Homo sapiens: one gene and its partners. The protein of the gene in region 2 purifies or fractionates together with the protein of the main gene of each other region. This does not show direct contact. Each region holds a gene or a part of one and is shown on either strand. Other genes may lie near its edges.

Evidence for each region. Proteins that work in one complex are often made in the same cells at the same time.
Region 1: the proteins of SEMG2 (region 2) and LYG2 purify together in Homo sapiens (affinity purification with mass spectrometry; 2 studies listed by BioGRID and IntAct, with this or other methods). This does not show direct contact.
Region 3: the proteins of SEMG2 (region 2) and HEPHL1 purify together in Homo sapiens (affinity purification with mass spectrometry; 2 studies listed by BioGRID and IntAct, with this or other methods). This does not show direct contact.

Annotation. Positions count from the first base shown.
Region 1 is NC_000002.12:99,241,212-99,246,524, forward strand, and holds the end of LYG2 (lysozyme g-like protein 2 precursor), read right to left. Parts: intron 4,248-5,313; coding exon 4,051-4,247; intron 2,927-4,050; coding exon 2,788-2,926; intron 1,272-2,787; coding exon 1,153-1,271; 3' UTR 1,035-1,152; downstream 1-1,034. UniProt on the Homo sapiens protein: May act as a potent antibacterial protein that may play a role in the innate immunity.
Region 2 is NC_000020.11:45,215,167-45,224,372, reverse strand, and holds the start of SEMG2 (semenogelin-2 precursor), read right to left. Parts: upstream 3,001-9,206; 5' UTR 2,984-3,000; coding exon 2,908-2,983; intron 2,665-2,907; coding exon 992-2,664; 3' UTR 948-991; intron 83-947; 3' UTR 1-82. UniProt on the Homo sapiens protein: Participates in the formation of a gel matrix (sperm coagulum) entrapping the accessory gland secretions and ejaculated spermatozoa.
Region 3 is NC_000011.10:94,107,496-94,115,242, reverse strand, and holds the end of HEPHL1 (ferroxidase HEPHL1 precursor), read right to left. Parts: intron 4,341-7,747; coding exon 4,178-4,340; intron 3,707-4,177; coding exon 3,638-3,706; intron 3,552-3,637; coding exon 3,349-3,551; 3' UTR 1,035-3,348; downstream 1-1,034. UniProt on the Homo sapiens protein: Is a copper-binding glycoprotein with ferroxidase activity. It oxidizes Fe(2+) to Fe(3+) without releasing radical oxygen species. May be involved in the regulation of intracellular iron content.

The DNA of each region.
Region 1 (5,313 bases), on a different chromosome or scaffold from region 2:
ATCACTTGTGTCCTCTCCTGACTATGGAAGTAAAGGCCACAAACAGCACACAGTTTCCTTCCAGAGAGTTGTCTCTTCTCCATTGTAGGTAGTGTGAGCAAGACCAAGGTAGCAAAATAGCCAAAGGGTAGGTTTGTATGTGACCCAAGATAAATAGCTCCGAACCTCTCCTGGCACTATGAAAGTGACGCAGAATGAAGACATAATCAGAAACAGGTGTTTGGAGTACATATATGAGGATACTGGTGAGGGTGCTAATTCATTTGCTTACTATGGATGCTGTAAAGTATGGTTAACCCATTCCTGCTACCCAGACCCCAGAGTTGCCTGGTGTCTCTTCATCTCCTTGACCTTCTTAGTTTGTTCTGTTAGCCTTCCAGTAATTTCTTTTTAATGCTTAAAATTTCTATAAGTGGTTACTTTTGCTTGCAACCAAAGAACCATAATTGATTTGGGTCCTACATGCTTATCTTCAGCCATGTTTTGTGAGGGATGGACCCCGTGAAAGAAAGCGTGTGGCAGCAACTGCTGAAAATAAGAAAAGCCAGTCCCTGGATCTTCACAGACAAAAGAAAACACAGGAGGTTGCTGTGGGTTTGAAGGACTTGGTGTATCTAACTTGAATGACAGCTTCACCTCAGTTGGCTCTCAGTTTCCCATGAAGCTAGAATTCCATCCCTATTTCTTCCATTGTCCCATGGATTGGCTGGCTTACGAGTCAGGAACTTCTCATAAGCAAAGCCTGAGGGCTCTGGGCAGATACTGGAAAAAAGACAAAGGCTCGGGTAAGGCTTACTTAACTTGTTAGCAATTCTGGTAGACAGGGAGTAGGTGGGCATTGGAATCACAGGCTAAAATGAAGCCTGGCTGGAATACCTAGGGACCATTTGCCATGATATTCACATTTACTGCAAAGTAATTATATATATGTCTATGTCCGTTTCCTAGGAACCATATTGTGAACTGGATGGATTTCTTTTATTTTTCTTTCCTTTTTTCAATGCTTATTTTCATTCAGAAAATTGGGAAATGAATTTTCTTTCATGATTTTAATCATTTCTTTGCCAGTGTTGTATACAACACATTCACGTAAAACTCTCAAAGGCGGCCATCTGAGCACTCTGCCAACCTGGCCCACCCACAGAGCTTTGCCTAGAAGCTTTGTCTTTTATAGAACTTAGCTCGAGCAATGATATCATTGACGAAGTCATTGTCTATGTCCGATGGGGTGGCAATCGCTTCAATTCCTGACTTAAAAGCTGAGAGACCACCTGAAATGAAACACAGAGAATTAGGCTCAAATATTAACTTTCAACAGAAATAAGCAATGAGCATTGCCAAGATGTTAGCTTTCCAGGCAAATCTTCCAAAGCAGGCAGTCCCAAATCCTCCTCCCTCTCCCTCCCTTTCTGAAAGGACGTGCTATCCCAAGAATCACTGGGAAAATTCCAGATTGCTTTCTTTCTCTTTTTCCAAAGTCTTTGGTTTTTCTTGTTGCAAAAATCAGATTTGCTTTTTTATGTAATCCAGGCCTGGCAGAACTAGACTCCCAGTACATCCTCTGCTGAAAATGCTTGTAACATTCTCTCATTTATTCAATAATTCACTCATCTATTCACTCACTCATTTATTCATTCAGGAAATGTTTTCAAGCACCTACTATGTGCCAGGAGAGGTGCCACACTGACTGCAAGGTACCCAAGACACACTTATTTCTTTGGGTATGTGTACATATGCATGTGTGTGCTATTTTACCCTAGAATTTTATCTCTAGTAGTTATGTATGTGTTTAACATAATTGTGCTCTGCTCTGATATCCAGAGAGGAAGATGCCTGGTCCTGATCCCTGCCTTCAAGGACCTTGAAGTAGAGACTAGAAACTGTTCTGATTAAGGCCGTTAGAGTGTGGAGGACATAACATTGGCCAATAGGAGGCAAACCTAATAGGAATTGATGTGGTTGGGTGTGAAGAGAGAAGGAACCAGAGAGCCTAAGAAAGCAATCTGGTTTTCAGGCTGGGATGACTGGCTATATTATGGTGCCTCCAAGACATGTAAAATGCAGAAGAAAGAGCAAATTTATAGTGGGAAGTTAGTGAGTTAATTCCATCTGGGAGATGCTGAACTTGAGGGGGCCTGTGGTCAGCCAAGCAGAGATTTCCACTTGGATATATAGCACCTGAAGTCCCGAAAATACTCACAGAGTAACATTGTTCAGACAATTTGGAAAGTTGTTGACAGTTTCTTATAACAGGAAAAAACCTATGAGAGGTAGGCAAACAGATAGATAGATAGATAGATAGATAGATAGATAGATAGATAGATAGATAAATTTTTTTTTGAGAGATGGGGTCTCACTCTGTCTCCCAGGCTGGAGTGCAGTGATGTAATCAATGCTCACTGCAGCCTTAACCTCCCAGGCACAAGCAATCCTCCTGGCTTAGCCTCCTGAGTAGCTGGGACTGTGTGTCACCATGCCCAGCTTTTTTTTTTTTTTTTTTTTTTTTTGTAGAGACAGGGTCTCACTATGTTTCAAGGTATCACTCAATAGCTCAGTAAGCAATGAATAAGAACCCCAACATTCTGCAGAAGAGGAAATGGAGGTTGAGGATGGAGGACCTCTCAAAGTAACTCAGTGGTTCAGGGAATGCAAATGCAGCCTCTAGACAGCTCCTCCCAGGGCCACTGCTGACCCCGTGGAAATGCTCCCAGGGAGTCTCGGGTCACACTGGCCTTCAGTGGTCTCATTCATTGCTCATTTAAACAAAGTACTCAGAATACAGCCTACCTTTGAGGTGCTGAGCAACACTCCACGTGGGGAATTTTTTCTGGATTGCCTTAATTCTCTCTGTTAGAATCCCAGTAGCCTGTGAAAGGTGCTCTTTGCTATCCCAGGCACCGACAGGGTGGTACGTTTGTTTATCAAGCTAGAAAATTCAGATAATAAAGTCAGCATCTGGATGAGGTAACACATTTTTTCTGCCATTCCTAATTTCCTCTCCTGGTATTCAAGTCATAGATACCGGCCTTTATCCCCAAAGAGTCAATTCTATTGTTCTTTCTTTCATATAGATGAGAGTCAGAGAAACAAAGTAAGGTTTGGGAGAAATGGACATGGTATAGTTTTAGCTAAACATTCTAATATACAAAAAAAAAATTTAAGTTGTTTTGAAACAAATAACACCCAAAGTCTACACATTTATAGTAATAAATAATTATCCAGCTAATTCAGATAAAAATTTGTTTCTAACTGGGAAGGCCAGAAGTCTGTATTTCTACAGACAATTTAAAATCGAGCCTGGAAGCAAATATCCAGATAATTTGGATCCCCTTCCTCCAGTTTACCCAAAGGAACAAGTTGTTTCAAGTAGGGCACAGTTATACCATGTTTTGATCCACATGGATGAAATTTACTACTTCATGAACCCCAAGAGGACACCTGTAACAATAATGCTATTTATAAGATTTTCTCAGTTTTAGTGTATTACATATTATTTATTGCAGAATGGTAGTTATGAAACTCCTAAAATACTTTTTAAAATATATCTAATAATGAATAAGCCTTGAATAAAATAAAAAGATGTGTTACAGAAATCCCAGATCAAATTATGCTGGAGTGGCCGGGCACAGTGGCTCAAGCTTGTAATCCCAGCACTTTGGGAGACTGAGGTGGGTGGATCACCTGAGGTCAGGAGTTCAAGACCAGCCTGGCCAACAAGGTGAAATCCCGTCTCTACTAAAAATACAAAAAATTAGCTGGGCATGGTGGCGTGTGCCTGTAATCCCAGCTACTCAGGAGGCTGAGGGAGGAGAATCACTTGAACCCGGGAGTGGAGGTTGCAGTGAGCCGAGATCACGCCATTGCACTCCAGCCTGGGTAACAAGAATGAAACTCCATCTCAAAAAAAAAAAAAAAATTATGCTGGAGTACCTGTAGCCAGATGCCAGGGTATTTTGGGGCTTGGAAGCACTGCAAATGGATTTCTAGTTCAGGTTGAGCTTCTGTGAGGAGGGATGCAGTGGGGCTGATAGAAAGTTTCTAGCTAAATACCTGCATCAAGCCAAATTTAAGTCCCCTGTGGTCCCAGCCGTCTTGCAGGACAGATCCGCCATGGCTTTCCCTGGAGATGATGGCTGCGATGACAGCAGGGTCCACGCAATGTCTCTGCCCGACTTCTTTGATCAGAGTCTGGTAAGGTTTTATGGCCCTCAAATCCATCTCAGCAAACATTTCAGAACCACGGATCCCTACGTCAATAGAAAAGAAACTGTTTTTCCGGGCATGGTAGTGTGTGCCTGAAGTCAGTTCCTGCTACACAGGAGGCTGAAACAGGAGGATTGCTTGAACCCAGGAGGAGTTCGAAACCAGCCTGGGCATCATAGTGAGAGCCCATCTCTAATTAAAAAAAAAAAAAAAAAGAATTTAAAGTTAAAAAAAGAAAAGAAACTGTTTCTTCTACTTCAGAAGAAAACCATTTTTAAAAATTTGCTAAGTTAGCCACAGCCTCTGATCACTGCTAATGACTTGGGACAACCATTCTAAGACATCCTTTTGATCTCTGACTGCAGAAACAAACAGATCCACAACCCCCAACAGGTGTCGCTTCTGCTCTGTTTCTCCTTCAAATTGCTCATGCCTGTAATCCCAGCACTTTGGGAGGCCGAGGTGGACAGATCACTTGAGGTCAGGAGCTCAAGACTAGCCTGGCCAACATGGTGAAACCCCATCTCTACTAAAAATACAAAAATTAGCTGGACTTGGTGGCAGGCACCTGTAACCCCAGCTACTCAGGAGACTGAGGCAGGAGAATCGCTTGAACCTGGGAGGTGGAGATTGTAGTGAGCCGAGATCATGCCATCGCACTCCAGCCTGGGTGACAAAGCAAGACTCTGTCATACACACAAAAAAAATTCTGCCACACTAGTGCACTGGGAAGCCTGTTGTACTAGGAGTTAGCCAATGCATGTTTTAGCCTGGCTCCGCCACTAGTTGGTTCTGTTCTATTGGGAAGTATTCCCCTCCTTGCTGAGTCTTTGGGCTCTGATTTGTAAATTTGAGGGGTTGGGGTCTGATGTGACCTTGTGGTTGCTGCCAGCTCCGACACTCTAAAACCAGGATAACGTGATGAAGACGACTTTGGAACAGTATTGCTTCAAATGGTCATGTGTAACATGAAGCAAACACAGCAGCACCACCCAAAAAACAAAGCCAGAGTCTAATATTTATTCAAGCAGTAGTTTCAATACATGGAAATAAACACAGCTGGACAAAGTTTGGAAAGAATGGGGGTGGAAAATGAAAAGAAGCTGGTTG
Region 2 (9,206 bases):
TCATCCATGGACCAAGGATCTGGGACCACATGGGAGTCTGCCTCTCAGAAACATCAAAGACTTCACTGAGGTCGGGTGACACCTAGGGAGAAAAAAGACAACCAGATATGTGAGGATAGTGGAGAGTGGGGGTGAGGATGGGAGAGCTGGGACCCCTGTCCCCTTTAGCGTCAACTGCACCAGCCCCCTGATCATTAGGACACCAGGTCACTAGTTATCAGCTGGGACCATTGTTTCTGCTGCTTACCCTCTCTTCAGGTACAGTGTTACTTATTGCAAAGGGGCATGGAAGAACCATTTCCCCAATCCAGGTTAAAATTTTCCTCTCCTGACATTGCAAGTGTCCAGTTAGCACCTGAGATCTCTCAGCATCTCCTGCACCTCCATTTCCACTTCCTTTTTCACAATCTGAACAGGAATCCTTCTTTCTACTCATATCTTTCCTATATTCAGAGAGAGTGGACTGCTAGTCTTTGGGCTTGTGGTCTCTGAAGGAGCATAGATGAACTCTAACAGGGATGCAAGAACATTCATGTATGTGCAGAAAGAAAATATTAACTGCTGTAATATTTCATACTATATGAGAAAGAATTTGAGGTTTACTAATCTAAAGTATAAGAATTGACAAGAGTATACCATAAACTCATAAATATGCATATATAGTCAGTGCATGTTCAAAAAAATCTTTAGCAGGTAGGCATGTATAAAAATATTATTGAAGAATACTCAATTAAGAATAGGAATTCTAGGACCCAGTGATAGTCCAAGCAGCCTTCCCTGCCACTACCAGGTCCTCTACTCGCCAGGAAATGGTGTTCATCTTCCCACCACTTGTAATATAGCACTTCTATTGATGTGAACAATGGTTATCAGTCCTACCATGTTCCTGGAGAGTCCCCAACTTTGGGACAGGCACCTCTCCTATTTGGTAAGAAAAGCAAACTTACCTTGCTATTGGTCCAGCTTTTCAAGTGGTTGCTAAGCAACAGGGCTATGTAGATATTGGATTTCTGTCTTCATTATATTGTTGTGTCAAATGATCATCTTGGGCAACCTCATGCTCAGTAATTACAATATTATGTGACTCACTGGATTCCTGTTTGTATCTGCCTTTTTGTTCATGACTGAGTAGGTCTTGTTTGCTATCTGCAGATTGACCAGACTTTCCTTTTGCATTTTGGCCAGACCATTGATCTTGATTAGGATTTGGTGTCTGGATTTGAGACTTGCCTTCTACTAGCTTTTCAATTTGGAAAGAAATACTGCTTTGGGATACATCTTTCTGCGTGCTCTTTCCTCCATAGTTGAGTCGTCTTTCTTCTGTACTTGAAGATTGGTATGACATTTTATTTTCCTTATGGCCATGCTCTTGATCTTGACTAGGAATTGTTACCTGGTTTTGAGACTTGCCATGTATTTTCTCTTCAGTTTGGATAGAAATACTGCCTTTGGATACACCTTTCTGTACATCCTTTTCTCCACTGTTGAGACGTCTTTCTTCTGTACTCGAAGATTGGTATGATATTTTATTTTCCTTATGGCCATACTCTTGAGCTTGACTAGGAATTCTTACCTGGTTTTGAGACTTGCCATGTATTTGCTCTTCAGTTTGGATCGAAATACTGCCTTTGGATACACCTTTCTGGATGCCCTTTTCTCCACAGTTGAGATGTCTTTCTTCTGTACTTGAAGATTGGTATGATATTTTATTTTCCTTATGGCCATGCTCTTGATCTTGACTATGAATTGTTACCTGGTTTTGAGACTTGCCATGTATTTTCTCTTCAGTTTGGATAGAAATGCTGCCTTTGGATACATCTTTCTGTACACTCTTTTCTCCATGGTGAAGTTGTCTTTCTTCTGTACGTGAAGACGGGTATGATATTTTATGTGCCTTCCGGCCATGCTCTTGATCTTGACTGAGATTTTTTGTCTGGTGTTGATTCTTGTTATATACTAGGAGCTCATCTTGGGTAGTAAAAATGTCTTTGGGTCCATGTTGGAGTCTGTCTTGATGTGCAGGATGGAGTGAAGTTTGTAGTTTACTTGAATGTTCCTCTCTCACGTCAACCACATTTTGGTAATGCCCTTTATTTTGATGAGAATTTTTAGTCTCACGTTGTTGTTTGTTAACTACTAGTTCTTCAGTTTGGAGAACATAACTGCTTTGGGATCCACCTTGTGTTCTACCTTTTTGTGCACCAGAGGCTGAAGCTTGTTCTTTACTTAGTCCATGAACCCATAGCCTTTTTTCTGTGTTTGAACATTGACTGGATAATCCCTTTCCAGATGGGCTATTCCCCTGATCTTGAGAAGGATTTTGTGTCCCATGATGAGCTTGGCCTCCTTTATGATGTATAACTATCATGTGAAAATGACCTTTTGATTTATCATGGTCTCTGCCTTCTTGTTTATAATTGAGCAGTTGTTGACTTCCACCTAGGTGTTGTTTTGATTTTGTCGCCTTATGTAGGGCATTCAAATCATATTGCTGACTTTTTCGGGTCCAGTCATGATCATTGATGTCTACATGATATGTGTGTTGAATAGAAAAACTGCCTTTGGATTTAGTATGTTGTTGGTCTTTTTGTCCAAAATAGTGCTGGCCCTTTTGTCCATGTGGAAATTGGGAAGATCCGCTTGGCAATTGGCCTTTTGATCCACCTGGTAATTGATAATAGAAATGTATGCATTCATTATCTCCAAAGCTCTCTTGCAACTCTTACCTCCCACCTTTTCCCAACAAATTTCTGATATTTCCAAAAGCCTACAGCGTTGGGTGGAGAAAAATCAATTCTCATCAAGGAGAAGAATCTGTGCCTGAACAGGTTACTGTTTGCACCCTGAATATCCTTAGAGGCCATTTTTTTAAAGTAGCTTTCCCCAAGGCTTACCCTCTCCACTCACCTTTTTGTCCCATCACAGCTGCTTGCTTCTCCAAGATAAGGAGCAGGGAAAGGACAAAGAGGATGATGGACTTCATCTTGCTTGAAAAATCTTGTCTGAGAACTGAGCGGATCTCTTCATTTATATGTTCCTTGAGTGGGTGTGCTATGGGTGGAGCTGAAATGTCAAAAGGCACTGCCCTTTCATAGCTTATTAGTAAATGCCAGCTTCCTCACCCCTGCTCAGTGGGGGATAATGTCAAAGTCCCCAGGGACTTAGCATGGGGACATAATATCAAAGGCAATTTTTTTTACTTTCAGAATCCCCAGCAAAATTTTATCGGTCTTTGTATATCATCATGCCAGATCGCTTGCATTATACAGAAGAAATTCAGTCCGGAGTAGGAAGGAGACTAGCTTCAGGTTACAAAAGTAATTGGTGGCTGACAATGCCTTCATACTCTAAATGCGAGTTTCCTTTCTGATCCAATAACTTAAATACTAAATTTTAGGTATAACTCTATACTTTGTCTTGTTTTAAAGTAATCCTGAGACACATTCTGTTTTACTCGAGAAGGAGCAGTCATAGAAGTAGAATGATACAGAAGAGAAAGAAACTTCATGGAAGCCAAAGAAAAAAATTTCAACAAATAAATGAGGCATACCAATGTCAAATGTATCTGTGAAGTTCATCACAAAAAAGACTAACATGTGTCAAAAACTTTCTGATGTTACTCACTGCTAGTAATGTTAACGAGAGATGAATACAGTTGTGTTGGGTTGTCAGTTGAAGGATGGAGTCCAGCTGAAACCATCTCAAGAAGTCTGATTTCATGGTGGAATGAGAGGTGAGGCTGTATCTGGAGGGTGAGGTAAGCTCCAGAGATTTTTTGAAAGGATGAGAAAAATTTAACATGTTTTTATGATGATAGGAACAACTGTTGGAAAAAGAAGTAAGAATGTTGGTTTCCAAATTGGATTATTTGATGATATTTACCTAAACAAAAATGTATTTACCAAAATACATTTTTTAAATAAAAGCATTTCATACTTCTGTAATAAACTGCTGAACCCTCCAACAGGCTGTGAGGAATATTTGCCAACTTCAGTTCATTAAATAATGTATTGAGAGTGGACCTAAAGCTAAAATTTTTACCTTGGGTGGAAGCATAGGGTTTTTTTGCTTTTGTTTTGTTTTGTTGTGTTGTGTTGTTTTGTTTTGTTTTTTTGCAATTGTGAAAACTTCTTGAAAAATCCAAGGAAGGTTTTTTGTTTGTTTGTTTGTTTGTTTTGTTTTTTTTGTTTGTTTGTTTTTGAGACAGAGTCTCGCTCTGTCGCCCAGGCTGGAGTGCAGTGGCACCATCTCGGCTCACTGCAAGCTGTGCCTCCCAGGTTCATGCCATTCTCCTGCCTCAGCTTCCCAAGTAGCTGGGACTACAGGTGCCTGCCACCACGCCCGGCTAATTTTTTGTATTTTTAGTAGAGACGGGGTTTCACCGTGTTAGCCAGGATGGTCTCAATCTCCTGACCTCGTGATCCGCCCGCCTCAGCCTCCCAAACTGCTGGGATTACAGGCATGAGCCACTGCACCCGGCCAGTTTCTTTACTTTGACTGAAAAAGTCCTTGTTATGAGAAGACAACAGGAGAAGCAGCAACATTTGAACAGTGACCCTGTATGCATTCAGAACACTGTGGAGGGTAGTTCTGGAGAAAGGACGGCTTGGAAACTTATTTTCTATTATTCTCTCTTAAAATCCTAACCTTCCTGTAAGCAATGCTATATGGAAGGGGAGAGGGGAAAGGCCAACCATAGGAAAAAATGCTACTTATGCCATCAAACTTGAAGCATGTGAGCTATGTGGTTTCTCTATGAGCCATTCTGAGATCTTACCAGTTTTATCTGTTTGCCCTAAGGGCAGTAAGTATTTCCTTATGGCAGGGACCCCAAAAGAAAAGAGTAAAGTTTTCCTGAACACAAATTTATTGCTGTACCTGCTAATCACTATAATCTTCCTTACACTTCCCTTAAGGAAATACCAGGAACTGTTGTGTTCCAAGATTACCGGAACAAACAAGAGTCTGAAATATTAATCTTACTTATGGATCAAGAACAAAACTTCCAACTAATCTAGTGTCCAAAAGATACAGATAAAACAAAGGTGCACAAGATTTGCAAAAACAAAGCAGGAAAATGCAAACTAGGCACAACATGTGATTATGATACTCATATCATGATTGGATTTAATGAAATTTGAAAAAAAAGCATTTCAAAATTAAAAATAAATCTATTGATAAAGATGAAAGCAGAAATCGGTAATTTGGAAAGCATAAACATGGTATAGTGCTGCATACATCTTAGATGTGGTATCATGATTGGGAAAATATCAAATGATAAAAAATAAACAAGGAAAAAATAGTAGAATATTTTAAAGTTCACCAAGTAGGAGACAGGTCACTGAGCTTGACACAGTTTATATGCCCCTGTGGCAGCACAGTGGCTATGTGTCCACACTGAGTACCTGAGAAATAGCCCTGTAACACTCTCTCCCTCCAGAGACACATCCATGGCCTGCTCAGTGGCCCTATACTCCCAATAAGAGCTTGAGAAACAGACTCACAAGCTCCCCTGCTGGGCTTGACACCACGCTGGCCCAGCTGCCGAGAGCCCATTTCCCAAACCTGAGAAACAGCCCATGGGCCACCCCTGGTGGGCATACCCAAGCCAGCCAAGTAGTTATGTGGTCATGTCCCAGGTCTGAGAAACAGTCCTACAGATTGCCTCTGGTGGTCACACATGAAGGACAACCAAGAAGCTCCATGCCTACACCCTAGGCCTACAGAATATCTTCTTGGGCCACCCCTTACAGAAATGCTCAAAGCCTAGCCACTCAGCCATGCAGCTGTGTCAAGTGCCTGAGAAAAAGCCCTCTTTCCTCTCTCATTCCCTTCCTCTCGTAGGCCATCCAAGCAGCCTTACACCCACATCTTGGGCCTGAGAAAAAGCCCAGTAGACTGACCCTGGCAGACATGTCTTCAGACCAGTTGAGAAGCTGTACTTCCACGTCCTGAAACCAAGAAACAGCTTCACAGGCCACCCCTAGCCTGTAGTCACACTCACTGACTGAACAAACATGTGCCCATGCTTCCAGCCAGGATAACAGCACCCTGGCCCCAATACCATTGAGTCATACCTTAATTGAATTACCTACCACGTGGATGCACACACCCCTGACCTGAGAATTAGCGCTGGAACCACAGCACTGGCAAAGCCATGCCACTGTAGCAGCACACTCTCTCAACTAGGGCGCTGAGAAACTCTCAAGTGCCACAAGTGTGGATCATAGGTGAAGAAACTCTATGGAAACAATACTGCTACATACACCTGCAACAAAAACCAACAAACTCAAATGAACTAACACCTAAAGACCCATTCATAAAAATAAGTTTTCGCTTATAAAATCTACTCCATAAAATTGGAAGAGGCAACTTTTCCATCAGACGCATAAAATAATAGCAGAAAACTTCTTGCATCTTGGGAGAGAGATAGAAATCCAGGTCCAGGAAGCTATAAGAACCCTAAATAAATTCAACCTAAACGGGTTCTCTCCAAGGCACATTTTAATTGCATTGCTAAAAGTCAAAGACAAAGAAAGATTTTTAAAAGCAGCAAGAGAAAAATGTCAAGTCACATATAAGGTAACCCCCATCTGACTAACAGAGAATTTCTCGGGAGAAACCTTACAGGCCAGGAAAGAATGGCATAATATATTCAAATTACTAAAAGAGAAAACTGTCAGCTAAGAACATTACCCTCAGCAAAGCTATCCTTCAGAAATGAAGGAGAAATAAAATCGTTCAGAGAGAATAAAAATTAAGAGAGGAGGGTGGCAGAACAAGATGGTGGAATAGAAGGCTCCAATGATCCCCCCTGCCCCCACCAAGGTCACCAATTTAACAAGTATCTGCAGAGAAAGATCACCTTTATAAGAACCAAAAAATCAGGTGAGCACTCACAGTAACTGATTTTAACTTTATATCACTGAAAGAGGCGCTGAAGGGGTAGGAAAAACACTTGTATCACTGATGCCACTCCTCCTTCATCTCCCGGTTGCAGGTATGGGGCACAGAGCATTTCTGTGCATGGGGTGAGAGAAAGCACAGCAATTATCAGTTAAAAAGTGGCGGGAATGAAGTTAAAGTATAGAGTCTTTATTAGTTTTCTTTCTCTTGTTTGTTTATGGAAGCAGTGTTAAGTTGTTGTCAGTTTAAATAATGGGTTATAAGATAGTATTTGTGAAGTGTGAGTCTTCCAACTGTGTTCCTCTTAGTCAAGATTGTACGGCTATTTGGGATCCCTTGAAATTCCAAATGAACGTTAGAACCCACTTTTCCATTTCTACAAGAAAGCCATAAAATTTTTGATAAGAATTGCATTGATTCGGGCTGGGCACGGTGGCTGTAATCCTAGCACTTTGGGAGGCCAAGACGGGTGGATTGCCTGAGCTCAGAAGTTCGAGACCAGCTTGGGCAACACGGTGAAACCCCGTCTCTAGTAAAATACAAAAAATTAGCCAAGTATGACAGCGTGCGCCTGTAATCCCAGCTACTCAGGAGGCTGAGACAGGAGAATCGCTTGAGCCTGGGAGGCCGAGGTTGCAGTGAGCTGAGATCGTGCCACTGCACTCCAGCCTGGGCGACAGAGTCAGACTCCATCTCAAAAAAAAAAAAAAAAAAAGAAAAGAAAAAGAGAGAGAATTGCAGTGATTTGATTATCACTTTGGGTAGTGTGCCATCTTAACAATATTAAGTCCTCCATTTCACAAATAAAGGATCTACATCCATTTATTTAGGTCTTTACTTTCTTGGGGAAGTGTTTTGTAGCCTTTAGTGTATAAGATTTACATGTCATGGGTAATTTATATTTCTAAGCATTTTGGTTTTTTTGACATTCTAAATAGAATTGTTTACTGAATTTTAATTTTGAATTTTTCATCATCAATGTATAGAAATACGACCAATTGTTATCTTTTAATCATGTATTCTGCAACATTGGTGATTTCATTTATTAGGTTCCATGGTTTCTTAGTTGATGCTTTGGAATTTTTTGCATATGTATTGTCTGCTAATGAAGGTAGTTTTCCCTGTTCCTTTATTTTTTTAATTTTATTTTTCTATAAGTTATTGGGGTACAGGTGGTATTTGGTTACATGAGTAAGTTCTTTAGTGGAGATTTGTAAGAACCTGGTGCACCCATCACCTGAGCAGTATACACTGCACCATATTTGTTGTCTTTTATCTTTTATCCCCCGCCCCCCTCCCACTCTTCCCCCCAAGTCCCCAAAGTCCACTTTATCATTCTTATTCCTTTGCGTCCTCATAGGTTAGCTCCCACATATCAGTGAGAATGTATGATGTTTAACTTTCCATTCCTGAGTTACTTCACTTGGAATAATCATCTCTAATCTCATCCAGGTCATTGCAAATGCTGTTAATTCATTCCTTTTTATGGCTGAGTAGTATTCCATCATATATACATATATGGGCATCATGGTGAGAGAGAGATCTATATACATATATATATAAAACAGGTTCTCTCCAAGGCACATTTTAATTGCATTGCTGAAAGTCAAAGACAAAGAAAGATTATATATATATATATGAAACACTGATATATATATAAAACATATATATATAAAACTCATATATATATATATATATATATATATATATGTCAGAGTTTCTTTATCTACTCATTGATTGATAGGCATTTGGATTGGTTCCAGGATTTTGCTATTGTGAATTGTGCTGCTATAAACATGGATGTGCAAGTATCTTTTTTGAATAATGACTTCTTTTCCTCCGGGTGGTTACCCAGTAGTGGGATTGCTAGATCATACGGTAGTTCTACTTTTAGTTCTTTAAGGAATCTCCACACCGTTTTCCATAGCAGCTGTACTAGTTTACATTCCCACCAGCAGTGTAGAAGTGTTCCCTGATTGCCGCATCCACACCAACATCTACGGTTTTTCGATTCTTTGAATATGGCCATTCTTATAGGAGTAAGGTGGTATTGCATTGTGGTTTTGATTTGCATTTCCCTGATCATTAGTGATGTTGAGCATTTTTTCATATGTTTGTTGGCCATTTGTATATCTTCTTCTTCTTTTTTTTTTTTTTTTTTTTTTTGAGACGGAGTCTTTGTCTTTCACCCAGGCTGGAGTGCAGTGGCGCGATCTCGGCTCACTTCAAGCTCCGCCTCCCGGGTCCACGCCATTCTCCTGCCTCAGCACTCCCCCCCCACCGCCTCCCGACCAGCTGGG
Region 3 (7,747 bases), on a different chromosome or scaffold from region 2:
TAGTGATGATGGAGAGGCTGGTTTGGGGACTGCTGCAGTGGCCCTACTCAAGCAGGATTTGTGTGAATCTGCAGCCCAAGGTCAGGGTTAGAGAAATACATTTTGAATTTGTTTGCATAAAAATGGTTTTCCGATCATAAGGATGGATAAAATAAACTATGGAGTGGCTGGTAACACATTACCACAAACTTGTTGGCACACATTTCTTCTCTTACAGTTCTGGACCTCTGAAGTCCAAAATCAGTTTCAAGATATCTGCAAGGCCAACCTCTCTCTGGAGGCTCTAGAGGAAAATCCTTTCCCTTACCTTTCCCAGCTTCTGGAGATGCATTCCTTGCATTCCCTGGCCCATGGCCCTTTCCTCCATCTCCAAAGCCAGCAGCATGGCATCTTGTCTTGGTTGTCATATTGCCTTCTTCTGTAGCCAAATCTCCCACTGCCTCTCTTTCATAAGGACACTCATGATTACATATAGGGCCATTATGGATAATCCAGTATAAATTTCCTATCTTCAAGATCCTTAATCATACCTGCAAAGTCCCTTTTGCCACATAGGGTGACATTCACAGGTTCAGGGATTAGGACATGACATCTTTGGGGCAATATTCAGCCTACCACAGAGGGTAAAAAGCGAAAAAGGACCCAGTGTCAAGTTCTGAGGCATGCTAACATTTAGGTCAGACAGAAGAGAAGGAACTAGAAAAAGAGATTGAGAAGGAATAGTCATTGAGGAAGAAGGAAGGCTGGCAGAGAGTCATGTTGCAGAGCCAAGGGACTAGAGACTCCGAGTGTTCAGAAGGAAGGAGCTGTTTCTTGTTGCTGAGAGGTTGAGTAAGATAAAGATGGAGAAGAAGCCACTGGAAATGGCATCATGATTGGTGATCTCTACCACAGCAGATTGGGGTGTGGGGGCTGGGCACGCTGGATTGAAAGCCATCAGAATGGGCTGAGGAATGCATGGGGTGAGGTAGTACAGGCACCAAGTGTGAATACCTCTATGTTCTGCTATCAAAGGAAGAGAGAAACTGTGTCGGAGGGGGTTATAGAGTTAAATAAGACAGCACATTGCTTTCTGTTTTTAATGGCGGACATTGCTGATGGTTTCATAGAAAGATGCAGGAGGAAAAATGGATACCCAAGGGAATGAAGTCTTGAGAAAGCAAGAAGCAATGAGACCCAAAGTCAAATGAAGAGACTGTCCTGCTAGGAGCAGGGACACGTGTATTGTAATAGGAAGAAATATGTGTGTAAGTGAAGGCAGAGTTGATTTTCTCAAGAGTGAGGCTGAGAACAAGGAGTGTAGTTATGTTTGAGGAAACAATGTTTGAGAAGTCATATTATTTGTGGAGATACACTATTTTGTTTCATTTCCTCTAACAAGTGTCATTGGCATAGTCATAGCCCCTAAATATCTAAAAATTAATTCCACTTTAACCACCTCCCCTAGTTCAGTGATAGATAATTTTAAGTGAAAATAACCATGCAAATAGCCACCTTATGTGACACTTTATTAAAATGATAAATGATGCAATCAAACTACTTTGTGGTTTTGTTTTCATTAAAAAAATAAACTGAAAAGAAAAAAAAACAACTGAACAACTTGTCTTACTAAGGTGGGTAATAAATAAGGCATTTACCATAATTATGAAATTATGCAGCCTACACATGTATGAAAACTGTAGAACATGTACTATGAAATCACATTGTCAATGGTTAGCAGATTGAAATTCAAAATCTTTTGTGTATGCTGTTTGATATGACATTCAAGCAAACTATGAACAGAACTATTAGCATTTGCATCCCCTTTTATGTTAAGACTATAGCTTCTATCCAATTACCCATTTCCCCTCATGAAGATGAAGATGAGACAGTGTGAAAGGTCCCTCCACCAGAATATTTCTTAGGTCCTTGTCACTCACTTTGACATTCAAATTACCCACTGCTAAGGCAGGCATACCAGTATCACTCATCTAGCATTGGCATTGGAATCTCAGGGCATCTCGCCCAGAGCTAAAAGCAATTTCTCAGTCTTGTAATAAACAATGTTACTTTTATCAATCTTACACCTACTGTCTAAGCATAGGTATGGACAGTGTAGATTGCCTCATAATGGGTTGAGTTTAGTTGTTCAATAATTTTTTTGCATTTGAACCTTGGAAATTATTTATTAATTTTCAAAGCTGGTTTAATGGTTTAAGAGAATCTGCCACCAAGATTATCTTTTTCTCACCTTTCCTTTTCCTTTTTTCTCCTTCCATGAAGAGGTATGTCTTTAAAAGCCATAGAATCTAGGATATTTAGAGGTCCCTTCTCCTATCTAGTCACCTACATTGATAAATTCCTCCTGATGTTTCTCATACAATGAGAATGTTATAATTTCATAGAAGATGAGGACTTGTAAAGATTCCCTCTAACTGAATGAAAAATCAGACTCCAAATTCAAGCCCAGACTTGCCTCCTGCAAAGCTTCCCTCCCTGATAGAAAGCTTGCTCTAAACTCTCAGGGAGTCCCTGATTCATAAAGGGAGAGCCTAACATGTTCTTTTACAGATTTCAGCCCTCCCACAGTCTGCAGTAGAAATACAATTTCTCTACTTGATTTTTGAAAGTACAAACATTGCCACAGAAACATATTGTAAAAACATGTAACATGAAGTGAGTTGTAAACATTCAAGTATTTCTACAGGTTTGAATAAAAACAGCAGCAATTTTTTAAAAAACGTATAACTTTGCTTTTTAAAACAAGCACTGCACAGGCTATTTATATCAAAGAGGAAAAGGCCAGGAGAGCTGGTTAAAGCCTCCAAAAAATTTATTTGGTCTAATTCTATCAGCAGACACTGACTTAGACATTGCCAAGAACTCCTAAGAAAGATATTTTCCACAGAACCAAGGGATGCATGTTATGCAACAATGTTGAAAAAGTAGTGCCCTTCCAGTTAAATGTCTGAGGCACTCTAACTTTTTCTAGAAGCTGTTCACCTAGAAACTTTGGTGGTTAGCTAAGAAAGCACTGTTCAAGAATTATAAAAGATGGAATATAAAGATATCTTTCAGAGTGTCTCCTATTCAGTGAATCCAACCAAAGAATAGACTAAGAGTTGACATTCTCAGCCATGCCCATTCTCCTTTTTCTGTGTTTTATACCTGAGGATTATTCGCAGCCCATTTAAAAATAAATAAATAAAAGCAAATTGCTTTGGATGATGTTTGAGAGGATCAGAAGGCTGATCCAGGATACAGTGTCAACCTTCCTTGGTGAGTGATGCCTTGGTCCAGTTTCCCTGTTGGCTGCCATCTGGCCAGCTGTGGGACATCACCCTTTCCTGTTGAGGGAGACCAGATGGTTCACAGAGCATCCGTGGGGAGAGCACAGGACTGGACTTGCTGGTAATCTGTCTGCTTCATTGCAGAGCAGAGTCTGAGGGAGAGAATCACCGTGGTGATTAGAAGGAGGAGTCCAATGATGAAAAGGATGACCAAGGCTGCCTTGGCTCCTGTTGGACCCAGATTCTTGCCAAAGAAATAGAGCTGCTCTTTGCCAGGTCGTTCTGTGAAAAAGATAAACTTGTCAGGCCCCTGACATTTTTGAGGGGTGAAATGTTGACTCATTTACATGGGGAGAGGGTATCATTACCGTTAGATGGCACCGTGGCTGGGTGAGATGCCACTCCAGGAGATGTGGTGGAGTAAGGAATCCTGTTGTCTGCACAAAGAAAACAAGTTCATTGTTTTATTAACAACAGAAGGGGATTCTTTTCATGACACTAGTCATTTCATTTCACCAGCGAGGACTTATCCCATCAGTATCTGCCAATCATTTCTGGATTCTTACTGTGCTACTTCATTCCCATGTACATGCTTTCCTGCCCCAGCTGTCTTTCCCACTTCTGCTCACCCACTGAGTCTATCTGGAGCATCATGGCCTCTGTGAAACTTTGGCTCATATCCTCCAACTGTTACCCATTCACTCCTACTGCTGCTATTAAGCCCTGTACTCTGCATTCTGCTACGGCACATAGCATACTTGATTATAGTTACATATTTACATATATGTCTCTCTTACTTGACTCTGAGCTTGTTGAGGGCTATATCTGGGTTTTTGTCATGCCTCCTGTTTTGGGGGTCTACAGGAAGCTCGGTGCCATCATCTGGCATCACTGACAGACAACCGTACCTATGTTACGAAGGACCGTGTAGGTTGTCTCCATGCCAGCATGGATGTGGTCAGACACATGACAGTGTAGCAGCCATGTCCCTGGGTGATCTGCAAACAGTTCAATGGTTTGGAATGTCCCAGGAAAGAGATCATACACATCTTCTCGGTAAGATTTATCTATCTGCAAAAACGTTTTAAAAAACAACAGCTAGTAGCCTTCTTTGCTCAGAACAGCAAGAACAGAAAGAAGAGCAAAAACAAATAAAACCCACAGTAAGCAAAAGGAAGGACATAAGAAAGAGCAGGAATCAAGAATAGAAGTACAATAGAGATAAGTCAAAGAAATCTAAAACTGATTCTTTGAACAGATCAATAAAATCAATAAATTCTGTAGTAGCCAGCTTCCATGATGGCCCACAATGATCCCCACCTCCTGGTATTCATAACCTTTGTGGTTCCTACCTACATTGTATAAGGGTTGGTATGCGAAATCAATAGCATGTGGAAGAAGTGCTGGCATTCCAATTCCAAGATTAGGTTATCATTACTTCTGTGTTAGATACTCTGTCACCCTCTTCTCTTGGATTACTCACTGGAGGAAGCCAGTTTTCATGTCTTATCCACATGATCAGGAGCTGAACCCTCTAGTTAACAACCATATCAGTAAGTTTGGAAGTGGATCCTCCAGCTCCAGTCAAACCTTTGAAAACTGCAGCTCCAGTCGACATCTTGATTGCCTCCTCATGAAAGATTCTGAATCAACCAACTAGTTAAACTAATCCCAAATTCCTGATCCAAGAATTACTCTAAGTTTAGAGTAATTTGTTATGCAGCAATAGATAACTAATACAAATCTCTGGACAGACTAACCAAGGGAAAAGGGAAAAGGACACATTAAAAATACTGAGAATGAAAGTGAGGACATCACTAAAATCTTACAAATATTAAAAAGGAAATACTGGACAAACACCTCTTATCCAAAAATTGTACAACTTAGATGGTATGAACAAATCCCTTAAAAGACACAAACTCCTGAAGATTACTCAAGAATACATTGATAACCTGGATAGCACTATATCTATTAAAGAAACTGTAATTGCTTCAAGATATTCCAACAAATTAAACTCCAGATGGCTTTATTGGCAAATTCTACCAAACATTTAATGGAGAAATAATACCAATTGTAAACAAACTGTTCTGGAAAATAGAAGAGGAAAGAACAGTTCCAACTCATTTTATGAGGCCAGCATTACTGTGATACCAAAACTAAACAAATGCTTTGTGAGGAAAAAAAGCTACAATCAATACTCCTCATGAACATAGATACCATCATCCATAACAAAATACTAGCAAATCAATTCCACAAAAAGGAATAATACATCATGACCAAGTAAGGTTTATCCTGGGAATGAAAAAGTGTTTAAAAACTCCACAATCAATAAATGTAATTCAGCAACAGATTAAAGAAGAAAAAGCATCTGATCATCTCAATAGATGCAGAAAAACCATTTGATAGAATTTAACATTTGTTGATGATCAAAACTCTGAGCAAATTTAGAAGGAAATTTCCTCAACCTCATAATGGGATCCACAAAAAAGCTGCAGCTAACTTTATATTCAAAGGTGAATGACTAAATGCTCCCCTTGTAAGATTAAGAACAAACTGAGGATGTCCACTTTCACCACTCATATTCAAAATTGCACTACAGGTCCTAGCCATTGCAGTAAGACAAAAGAAATAAAAGACATACAGATTGAAAATAAATGAAGCCATGTCTATTCACAGACAACATGATTGTCTGCATAGAAAATCCCCCTAAAATCTATAGGAAAACTATTGGAACTAAAGTGAGTTTAGCAAAGATGCAGGATGCAAGGTCAACATGCAAATATCAATTATATTTCTAAATATTGGCAATAAACAACTATAAATCAAAATAAAAACACTATCATTTACACTATTACCAAAGCCTTTTATATACTTAGTTATAAATAAATAAAACAAAGTATATGCAAGATCTCTATATTGAAAACTACAAAATGCTGATGAAAGAAATCAAAGAAGAGCTAAACGATAGATATACCATGTTCATGGATTGGAAGCCTCAATATTGTTATGTCAGTTCTGTCCAACCCATTGTATAGCTTCAGTGCAATACCAATCAAAATCCCAACAGGATTTTAAAAATCAAAATCAACAAATTATTTCTAAAATTTATCTGGGAAGGCAAACATCTAGAATAGCTAAAACAATCACCATCTGATTTTGAGACTTACTATAATACTAAAGTAATCAAAACATTGTGGCATTCAAGAAAGGGCAGAGTATAAACCAGTGTAACAGAAGAGACCGCCCAGACATAGACCCACATATATGTGGTCAATATGATTTTCACAAAAGTAAAGAGTCAATTCTGTGGGAAAAAAAGATGATCTTTTCAATGAGTGGTGATGGAACATTTGGACATATATATGAAAAAAAAATGAACCTTATTTCATATCTTGAACCACATATGAAAATTAAAATGTATCAGAGCCCTAAATCTAAAACTATACCACTTCTAAAAGAAAACAGAGACCTTTTTTGGGACCTTCAGTAAGGCCAAAATTTTTTATACATGACACCAAAAGTATGATCTATAAAAGAGAAAAAAGAAAAATTGTACTTCATTTTACTTCATCAAAAATTAAGAACTTCTATTTGAAAGCTGTTAAGAGAATGAAAAGATAAGCCACAAACTGGAAGCAAATATTTGTGAGTCACATCACTGAAAAAGGATTTGTATCCAGAATATATAAAGCCCTCAAACTCTACAATAAGGAAACAAGTAACCCAATTTTTTTAAATGGGCTTACAATTTGGACACTTCACCAAAGATTTACAGATGACAGATGGTAAACAAACACATGAAAAGATGCTCAATATCATTAGCCACTGGGAAAATGTAAATGAAAAACAATGAGATACCACTATATCCCCTCCCCAAGGAGGGAATGCCTAAGGGAAAAAAATGAAATAAAAACTAAAAATACCAACTGCATATGTGGATGTGCAACATATGGAGTTCTCGTATATTTCCTTGGAAATGCAAAATGATACTGCCTTTTTGGAAAACAGTTTGGTGGTTTCTTATGAAATCAAACATACACTTATCACATGGCTTAGCAATCCTACTTCTAGGTATTTTCTCAAGGAAAATGAAAACATATGTTCACACAAAAACATGTGCACAAATGTTTGTAATGACTTGATTTGTAATAAACAAACTTGAAAATAACTCAAATGTTCCTCAACAGGAGAATAGATAAACAAACTGCATTATATCCTTACAATGGAATACTACTCAACAGTCACAAGAAACAAACCACTGATACACATAACAAGATGGATACAATTTGAATGCCTATGTTAAATCAAACAAGCCAGATTCAAGATGCTACAACCTATGATTTCCACATAACCTTTCAAAAAAGGCAAAACTATAGAGACAGTGGTTGACAAGTGTTAAGTATGGGGAAGTAGTTGACACTAGAGGGTGCAATGGTAAAATTTGTGGGGGAAATAAAAGTATTCTATATTGTGATTGT